Regions from separate parts of the Homo sapiens genome. Here region 2 is linked to region 1. Evidence: fine-mapped expression QTL. A gene starts in region 1. The other region holds a variant in brackets. All regions are shown on one strand. Distances are from middle to middle.

Region 1 (5,384 bases):
TGGCCAGGCTGGTTTCAAACTCCTGACCTCAAGTGATCAGCTTGCCTCATCCTCCCAAAGTGCTGGGATTACAGGTGTGAGCCACTGCGCCAGGCCACATAATTACAATTTCTAGAGGCTCTTTTCTCATTTGCTTGTGACTTAATCCCACTTGCAGAATACTCTTTGTAAACTAATCTGCCATAAAACAAAGTCTTTCTATGAATGTATATCACTGAAGCGCCCCCAAAACAGTTGTCAGCAAGCAACATACAATAAAACTCACCCTCCTTACTTTATGTTTGGTTCTCTCTCTTCACATGTTGTTCGTGGGTATAGAAGTTCTTCCTCCACCCATTTTCACTCAGTTTATGTCTCTATGCCTGCTCCCCAGAGGAAGATGATAAAAGCTACTCCTGCTTCCCAAAGTGTGGAACAACTGGCTCTGCTCTGTCCCCTTTCCCCATCCCCTACTAGTGTTCATGGTTGGTCAGTCTTTCAGCTCATAGAGAGGGGAGCTTTGAGAAATAAATCTAGTGACTTACCCCAGCAGCAAATCCTAGGTGGATACAAATTGTGAAAAGGGTAATTGGGAGATATTTTAAAAGAGATGTTTCTCCATGTGCCACAACAAACCAATGCCTGAAGCTGGGTTCGTGTTCACTGGTCAAATAATGTCCACTTTAGTGTGTTTCTTCACAGTATGACTGAGAAGGGGTGGAAGATTTAGAAGAGTTTACTGGTAATTTCCCTCTGGAGAGGAAAAGGGGCCTGAATGACAAGGGAAAAAAGAAGGGGCTAATTTATTGTCACTCTCCCTGCTACTCCTAGATACTACTACTGACAAAAGTATATTAAACAGGGATTCTAAGAAAACATGGGCAAAATAAGAAAGCTATCCACTAGAAACTAAGATAAGTAGAATTTTAGCTGGTAGCCAACCGGCTAAAGATTAAACGCTCAGTTCCTTACCCCCTGCGGGGGGGCAAGGCAGGAAGAGAAAAGTGGCTCTTGACCGAGTGGAGGATTGTCTGTGACTGAATTTGCTGTTCCCCTTCTTGGCTCTGTTCTCAGAATCACAGACTGCCCCCCTCCCTGACAAGCAGACTCCAGCACCTGGTAGGGGTAAGAGAAGACAAGAGAGAAAAAAGGGAGACAGAGAAAGATAAAAAACATCAACAGCCATGTTGCCAAACTAACAACTAAATCAATGACATGAAAGAAGGAAATTAACAGCACTAACCAAGATAGAAAAGAATAAAATAGGATTACCTCAAGACAAAATAGGCCTCCTCCCCTTTGACACACTAACCAAATAAAACAGTAACCATTGGAAAAGAAATTTAACTATGATTATTTTTAAAATTAGAGGGTTGCATACTAAAATTTAGGAAATAAATGTTAAATCTCTGAGACCGGAATTTCAGAGAGTGTTTTATTCCAAATGAATATCTTAAAAGTATTCTCATAATTGCTTTTAAGAAATCATTTTTTAAAATAGAAGAAATGACCTTTAAGGTACCCAATATTGTGAAAGTAACAAAAATGAGATTTAAAAACATTTCAATTTAAATGGTTATAGTTAATAATTAAGAACACCCATAAATATAATGAACATACCAAGCCCACAAAAAAAAATCTGCATAGTAGGCTGCCCATATACTTTCTATACCTATTTAGAGTTGAACCTAACTCCACAAAGATGTGGTAACAATATATATAACTAATGGGAAAATGACAGCATACTGAAAGAATTTACATAGCAGTTGCATTGAGCATGGTTAGTGCAATAACCCCTCACAGAACAGAATTACCACCCCATCGCTATTCGCCAATACAAATGGGATAAAACAGTGAAATAACAAATGTGTGATCAGAGATAAGGACATATTAATAAGGGGAGATTGAAATTATTACCACTCTGGTTTGGGTTTTTTTTGGGGGGGGGTGAGGGGCAAGTAGTGTAATATTTACATCATGCTCAAATTTTTAAAGAATCAAAACTGGACAAGCAATTATTTGGTCATCCCCTTCTCATTCAGAGACTGTCAAAGGAAAAGATGGAATGACTGTCACACTCTCTAAAATTTACACGTAAGGAGGAAAACGTGGAATCGAATACAGTAGCTGCGGGACCGCACCACGTGATCCTCCTCCCGCGGTCGCTCCATAGAATTTGTGGGAAGGGGGGGGAGGGGGAGTGTCGCCGCAATCCCGAGGACAGGTCAGCAGCCCGCGGGTCCGACTCCAGCCGGCGTTCCCGGGGTTACCACACCCCCTCGCCGGCGGGGAAACCATACTCCTTACACGCCCGAAGTCGCCGCCCCCTCGACACGGCTCGCCCGGTCGCACGCACACGCCACGGGCCGGCGCCTCCCGGCACACGCGCGAAGGCCGGGCCCCGCCTCGCTCCCCACCGACTCCGCGGAGCGGCGACCACCGGCCTCAACTAGCCCCGGACCCCGGGCGCGCTCGGGCCGGTCCCCTCCCCGGCCCAGCCCCCGCTAATCGGGGGATCCATTCCGCTGAACTCGCCCACTCGGGAGGGCGCGCCTTCGCCTCACTGCTCTACACCCGAGGGCAACAGCGGTCGTACCGCTCACCTGGGTCGGGGGGCTCCTCCCTCGCTCTCGGCCGACTGAGCCGGGCTGGGGCCTTCGAGGAAGCGCGGGCCGCCGGGCGGCTGGAAGTGGGGGAAGGAGAGGAGGGGGAGGGGGTCGGGATACCGGGAGCCGCCTCCTTTCTCCTCCGCCGACTGCGGCTCCCGCAGGCTGGCCGGGCGTCCTCGCACACTCGCCCAGTTTCTCACAGCCTCGCGTCCCGTCAGCTTCTCCCTCACCCCACTCCCACACACTCTCACTCCCACACACTCACACCCGGCCGCTCCTCGTTCCCTCACTCGCCTGCCGCGCGCGCGCGCGACCCCGCTCACACACAGCGCGCGCGACGCCGGCGGAGACCGCCCCGCTCCCTCAGACCGAACGCCGCCCGCCCGCTTGCTGAGGAGCGGCGCGCGCCCCGGCCCCGCCCTCCTGGCGCCGCGGCGCGGCGGGCGGGGGGCGGCGGCCGGAGGAGCTGGGGGCCGGGCCAGCGCGCCGAGCACTGCCGAGCGGATCTGACACCTGCGTCGAGAGCCGCCCTCCCAGCTCCTCGCCCGCACCCGAGCCATCGCTGGCCTCGGGGGAAGAGAGGCGATGGATCGCGCGCGGGGAGCGAAAAGGGAGCGCGAGGGCGCTCCGAGGACGCGCCTCCCCACCCGCCCCCAAACCGTCTTCACTGAGAAAGGGAAACGGATGGGGGGGGTGGGGGGCGAGGTTTGCTCCCAACTCGAAACCGCGAGATTAGTCCCTTCCGTTGTACGCCCTCCCCGCCCTCACATTCCCTGCTTAGGCCCCATCAATCTGCGCCTGGAACCCCGACACGAGCCCCCTACCCCCTCGGGCGCAGGGTCCTGCCGGCATCCCGACGCCTCCCGCCCAGCCCTTCCGCCGGCCGCCGCCCGGAGTCTCCGCTTACGGTGGTTCCTCCCTCCGGTAGGCAAAGATATGGAGACAAAGATCATTCATACCTAGAAGGTCTTTATCCGGGACTGGAGTAAAGACAGTACCTCTGTATATTGAGAGGCAAATTTAAAACCACATGATAAATTTCCTGGCTGAAGCGGGTTTGGAGATACAGGCGGGGTGGATAGCGCCAGCTCTGCCCCCTAGAAACCGGCGTAAACCTTGGACAAGTTAGTTGCTACGCTTCCTCTGAGCCTTTGTTGTGAAAAGATAAAAGAGTACAGTCCGGAGTCGTTGTGAGAATGAAATGAGATATTTTAAGAGCATTTTGTAAATTCTAAAACTATGTATAAAAAATAAAAGTATAGCCCAAAGGAGGCTAAGAATATGAATGTTCAACTACGCTATTACATTTTCTTAAGGAGAAAAAAAAAGGGCTACAGACGACCTCCCAGGTTTACATGGAAGATTCACTTCCAAATAACTTCAGTCACCAGAGACACCAGGTGTGAGGTACGGTAATGTGCTCACCAGTTTGCCTTCTTGCTGGTCTCAGCCCTGTCTCAGTGACCTCAGCCAACAACTTTTCACTGCTCCTCTCCCAGTCAATTGACAATATAATTTCATTTTCTGCTTTTAAAAAATTTTTTGACTAATTTCCTTCAGCGTCTCGAGAGTCCTTTAAAAGATGTAGCATAACCCAGGGTGGTAACTTCTGGATCCAGACTGCCCGGATTGGATTTATGGTTCCACTCCCTATGTGAACCTCTGCAGTAACTTAACCTCTCTGTATCTTTATCTGCTGAGCTGTAAAAGTGAGGATAAAAATAGTCACCTACTTCATGGAGTTGTCATAAGGAGTAAATGAGTTAATAAGTATATAATATTTAACAGCTGACACAGATCAAGTGCTGTTCAAAGTGTTTAGTGCTATTATAATGTTAGGTCAGTGAGAGTAACCTAGGATAGGCGTCTAGTTGGTTTACAAAATTTAGAGGAACAAACGCCCTATAAGATAGATACACTATCTTGAGAACAAAGGGGATAAGGTCTACAGAACTAAATTGTTGCTATTTACTTCCACTCTGATATTCAGCCCCCTGGGACATAAAGTATATTCAACTCCAAGACCAAGAGAAGCATTTTGTGATCAAGGGAAGCTTGAGCACAGAGATACTAACACTGAAAATCTGACAAAATAAACACAGTGAAATTGACACAGGGAAAAAAATGTACAGAGGATCAATAATAATATTTAATTAACCTATTCCTTCAGTCCCACTCTTAAGGAATCCAATTCGTGGTAACTGCATCCCCAGAAAAAGTGGGTTGTACTGGTGAAACTGAGGATAGGAAGTATGACTATTAACTCACTTGCCACTTGCCCTTAAAAGTTGTTATTCAGGGCAGGGCGCGGTGGCTCACGCCTGTAATCCCAGCACTTTGGGAGGCTGAGGCAGGCGAATCACCTGAGGTCGGGAGTTTTGGACCAGCCTGACCAGCATAGAGAAACCTTGTCTCTACTAAAAATACAAAATTAGCCAGGCGTGATAGCGCACGCCTGTAATCCCAGCTACTCAGGAGGCTGAGGCAGGAGAATCGCTTGAACCTGGGAGGTGGAGGTTTCAGGCCGAGATGGTGCCATTGCACTCCAGCCTGGGCAACAAGAGCAAAACTCTGTCTCAAAAAAAAAAAAAAAAAAAGTTGCTATTCAATTTATTGCTTCTATGTGCCATACACATTCTAAGATATTCTCATGTATGTAACAACGTTGCTTTTGACTTAAGCTAATAGGGAGTAAAACAAAGCTCAGGAGGGTATTTAAAAAAAGCCAATGATAAGGCTTAAACACATTACCATTATCATGATATTGTTAAGATAATGTTTATGTGAGTAATGATC
Region 2 (5,384 bases), 72 kb before region 1:
GTAGCTGGACAGGTGAGGTGGATCCTCCCTACCACTGAGGCTGTAGGAATAAAGAAGTCAAGGAAACAAAAGGCTTCTTTTAGGTACCTCCGTAGAAGACTGGCCCGTGAATTAAATGATTCTGCTTCACAGCACTTCTAAGACTGAGGCCATGTAGAATACTACAAATAACCCAAGCTGAGTGAGCCCTGATGTAAAAACAAAACAATAATAATCCATCTATGACTTTGATGAAAGAAATAAGAGCTCTTTAAGGAGATTCAAGTTCAGCACAAAAAGATTTTCTGAAGTTAAAACAAAAACATGATTACTCAACTAAAAAATCCAATAGAGAAACTCAAAGAGAGTACAGTCGCTTTGAGAGTTGACTTAGAAAATCAAGTAATATGCAAAGCATAGCTAAAAATGTGAGGTGAAATCATAAAGATAAAAAATTTGGGCCAGCTGTGATGGCTCATGCCTGTAATCCCAACACTTTGGGAGGCTGAGGTGGATCACTTGAGGTCAGGAGTTCAAGACCAGCCTGGCCAACATGGTGAAACCTCGTTTCTACTAAAAATACAAAAATTAGCCCGGTGTGGTGGCAGGCGCCTATAGTTCCGGCTACTCAGGAAGCTGAGGCACAAGAATCGCTTGAACCCAGGAGGTGGAAGTTGCTGTGAGCCAAGATTGTGCCACTGCACTCCAGCCTGGGCGACAGAACGAGACTCCATCTCAAAAACAAAAACAAAAACAAAACAAAACAAAAACAAAACTGGAGAACTGAATCAGAAAAATATTCCTCAGAAGGACAGAAACAGATGGAGAGGCAATAATTAATGAAGACATTTTCCAGAAAACTGTATAAGGAAGAAATTTAGTCTGCTGACTAAAACAGCTAAAATCCAGGTTGAACTGATAAGACACAAATATATCTACAAAATCCCAATAAAATGTGAGCGCCACTAAAAAAATTTACAAAGAATAAATTACCCACAAAGGAAAAAAATGAGAGTAGATTTGGACATTAAACTGCAACAATAAAATCTTCAAGGCAGTAGAATTGAAGCTAGACTCTTACAATATAAGAATTATATCTCAGACAAAGTATTATTCTTCTTCCAAGGAGAAAGATGTGTGATATTCTGATCTAAATTATATATTGGTTTTTGTCCACAGTTCCTGGCATATCACTCCAACAGCCCTTGTTATAGTCTTTTGTTATAATGTTGGGGCACTTTCCTTAGAAAATAGAATCTAACCTTCCCCTGTCCTCCTTTCACCTACCCCACAGCAGGACTCTAATCTTTCACAGCCTTTCTGATTGTGGGTCATAAGACCTCATTCCAGATGAGGTCCTGCCCCATACCCTGGAGGAAGGAATGTGGCACAGAGAGGCCAAGAAGAATCTGAACATACAGGCCTTGCTGGGTTTCCCTACTCAGTCTACTAGTGTTAGATCATACCCTTTTGGTCCAATTACATTTTTACATGGTTATCAATTATGTCTATCCAATTGGATATCAAAAAGGGCAAGGTTCAGAAAACTTCTGGATAGCTGGACACGTAGAGGCTCCTGAAGGGTGGCAAGCCGTGGGAGGGCATGGAAGCTCCATATCCTTTCTCCCATACCTTGCCCTATGCATCTCTTCACCTGTATCCTTTGAAATATCCTTTATAATATACAGATAACACAATGTAAGTGTTCTTTGAGTTCTGTGAGTTGCTGTAGCAAATTAATCAAACCTAAGCAGAAAGTCACGGGAACCCCAACTTGAAGCCAGTTGGTCAGAAGTTCTGTAGGCCTGGACTTGCAACTGGTGTCTGAAGGGGGTGAGGTGGGAAGTTGGGGATATTCTTGGTGACTCCTGGTGACTGAGCCCTCAACCTGTCAGATCTGATGGTATCTCCAAATAGAGAAATCCCCCACACGTGGTCAAATAAGTGTTCCATGTGAATTGTTGTTGAATGAGAGAATAGAAAAAGCACTTTGAGTGTATTTTTTGTATTAACAGAATATGTGAGGGTATCTATGACTCTGATAGCCCACCAGGAAAAATAATCAAGAAATGATACTAACATACTAGTAAATGGCTAACAGAGATCTCAAGATATGGGAAGATGAATATGAGGAGTAAACCATGGTGAGTACTTTGCAATATAGGTATAATTCATTTTAAGTGGATAAAGACAGACTGCCTGGGAATGGATAAAGTGCTATATAAGGGTTCATGAAACAGAAGAGACATACAGTAAAACAAATTCCAAACAGATGAACTAAAACTATTAGATGATTTCAGCAAAACTGGAATATAAGGTCAATGAGACTAGGGATTTCTGTCTGTTTTGTTCACTAGTATATACAAAATACTGCTACAATAGGCCAGGCGCGGTGGCTCATGCCTGTAATCCCAGCACTATGGGAGG[T/C]CGAGGCGAACAGATCACCTGAGGTCAGGAGTTAGAGACCAGGCTGGCAAACATGGTGAAACCCCGTCTCTACTAAAAATACAAAAATTAGCTGGGTGTGGTGGCAGGTGCCTGCATGTGGGAGGCCAAGATAGGAGAATCACTTTAACCCGGGAAGCGGGGGTTGCAGTGAGCTGAGATCATGCCATTGCACTCCAAGCCTGGGCAACAAGAGCAAAATTCCATCTCCCAAAAAAAAAAAAAAAATTATTGCTACAACAGTACTTGACGCTTTGGAGGTACTTGAAACTATTTACTCAATAAATGAGTCAATCAAGTGGAAAGAGTAGGAAGGAAATAAAATTGTTCTAATATTCCCATTGGAGGGGAGAGGGAACAAGGAACACCAGGGGAAAGTAAAGGTATTCCAAAGACTTCATTATTATTATGATGATACAGTGAAGTAGTAAATAAAGTATCAAGGAAAATTATCTTCTCAAGTAACTGTAGAGAATCTGTCTGATTATGAGCATAAGAAAATAGAAGGTAACCATTAATGGAATGCAAAACCCTGGTTGATCTCCCAAATTAACTGGGTTTGGTGGCAGGAGTGAAAATAAAATGGTACCTTACTAACCAGCAAAAATTAGAAAAGAAAAAGAAAAAGGAACAATTTGAGTTAAATAATAAACACAAAATAAGATGGAAGAAATTTTAAGTATATTAGTAATTACACAAAAAATGGACCAAATCTTCCATTAAAAGATGGAAACTAGTCCGATTTGAATAAAAAACAAAACTTAGCTATATACTGCTTATAGAAAACACGCAAAATAAACTTACTTCACAGCTTTATTTCTCCTGACCAGAGTATATATCCATATATACATTTTTTCCTTTGTTAAATATAAAAAACAATTATGCTAGTCACACACCAAAAAAAATTAATGAAATTAAAAAAAAATGTTACAGGCCACATTCTCTGACAACATTAGTAAGTCAAGAAAATCAGAAGGTAATAGGGTAATGGTAAAGGTAGCCAAAAGAATATTAACTACTTTGAGGTTGCAAAACTGATCCCTTGGATCAAAGAAATCACAAAGGAAAATGAGAACCAACTGTAAATAAAAGAGAAAAATGCTTTGTATTAATACCTTCCAACACTGTGAAAATTCTCCAGAGGAAGATGTTTAACATGAATTGCCTTCATTTTGAAACAAGAAACTAAGTGTTCTAGCCAAAGAAACTAGGAAGAGAGATATAATGAAAACAAAAAGTAAAATGAATACAACAGAAAGATAGAATTTTTTAAAAATACAAAAGCTATTTTGACAAGAATAAGAATGACAATAAAGAGAATCACATACAAAGCAGAGATTAAAAGCAGCATATGCAAATATCTCACAAAACTCTTTGGCAAAAAACTGGAAACCTAAAAGAAATGTATCATTTTCCAAGCAAATGATAAATTTCCAAAACCGCCCCCAGAAGTGGCAAACTTTAACAGGGCAATTATTACAGAAGGGTTTCAGAAAGTGATAAAAGCTATTACTGCAAAAGGAACTAGGATGAGAAAGGTTCACGGCTCAGTTTTACTTAGCTATCCTTTATTCCAATGTTACTTTACCAATATAGAATGCCCTAGGAAAAGACTGAAAACTCCCCAATACATTAAATAAAGCCAGCATAACCTTAATATCAAATGTGATAAAGTTTTTTAAAAATAATAATATTGGCCAATCTTATAAAAACAGATGAAAACATTCTAAGGCAACCCCCTTTGGGTCCCCTCCCTTTGTACAGGAGCTCTGTTTTCACTCTATTAAATCATGCAACTGCACACACTTGTGGTCCGTGTTTGTTACGGCTCGAGCTGAGCTTTTGCTCACTGTCCATCACTGCTGTTTGCCACTGTCCCAGACCCACCGTTGACTTCCACCCCTCCAGATCCAGCAGGATGTCCTCTGTGCTCCTGATCCAGTGAGGCACCCATTGCTGCTCCTGATCGGGCTAAAGGCTTGCCATTGTTCCTGCACAACTAAGTGCCTGGGTTCTTCCTAATCGAGCTGAACAGTAGTCGCTGGGTTCCACAGTTCTCTTCCGTGACCCATGGCTTCTAATAGAGCTATAACACTCACCACATGGCCCAAGATTCCATTCCTTGGAATCCCTGAGGCCAAGAACCCCAGGTCAGAGAACAAGAGGCCTGCCGCCATATTGGAAGTGGCCCTGCCGCCATCTTGGGAACTCTAGGCACAAGGACCCCCTGGTAACATTTTGGTGACCACGAAGGGACCTCCAAAGCAGTGAATAATATTGAACCACTTTGGCTTGCTATTCTGTCCTATCCTTCCTTAGAATTGGAGGAAAATACCAGGCACCTGTCAGCTGGTTAAAAATAATTAGCATGGCCGCCAGACTTAAGACTCAGGTGTGAGGTTGTCTGGGAAAGAGCTTTCTAACAAACCCAAACCTTCTGGATTGGGAGCGTTGGTCTGCCTGGAACCAGCTTCCGCTTTCAATTTTCCTGGGATAGCTGAGGGCCGACTAGAAGCAGAAAGCTGTCATCCCGAACTCCTGGTGTTAGCCGGTTGAGATCATGGCGCAGACAGAAGTCTCTACTCAACAGATGCCCATGCGTACACCCCTACTTTTCCTTCTGACCCATAGCTTCTGGGTCCCGACCACGACTTTCTTGAAAGTGTAGCCCAAAATTCTCCTTACCTCTGAATCTACTTCCTCTGATCCCTGCCTCCTAGGTACTAATGATTCAGACTTTCATTTCCTCTAGCAAGCTGTATTTCCAAAGGGATCTAAGGAAGCTCTACACTGCGTCCTTAGGCCCCTAGGCTACGAAGCCAGAGAGTCTTGTCCCTGGTGTCTCTCCCAATTTAGGCATACAGCTCTCGACATGGGCAGTTATGTGGGACCTGTTCCCCACCACCCTTGCCAGGGCCCCAAGTTTGTAAAGGGCTAGGAGAAAAGAGAAAGAGAGACAA

The links. PIP is the estimated chance that this variant, and not a neighbour inherited with it, causes the effect.
Region 2: its variant is the best candidate, but not a certain one, in a credible set for the expression of RIMKLB in whole blood (TOPMed, PIP 0.62).

The regions. Positions count from the first base shown.
Region 1 is chr12:8,695,496-8,700,879 of GRCh38, reverse strand. RIMKLB (ribosomal modification protein rimK like family member B) reads right to left here and starts at 2,889. Exons shown (of 6, transcript NM_001297776.2): 1 at 2,583-2,889. RefSeq lists silencers at 2,285-2,454, 2,985-3,084 and an enhancer at 2,094-3,060.
Region 2 is chr12:8,767,239-8,772,622 of GRCh38, reverse strand. The region is part of intron 5 of RIMKLB (ribosomal modification protein rimK like family member B); the gene reads right to left. Among named protein-coding and RNA genes, the nearest start is that of LINC02972, 18 kb to the left of the region's middle. RefSeq lists enhancers at 1-14, 15-516. The variant T/C (reference allele first, on the strand shown) is at 2,407.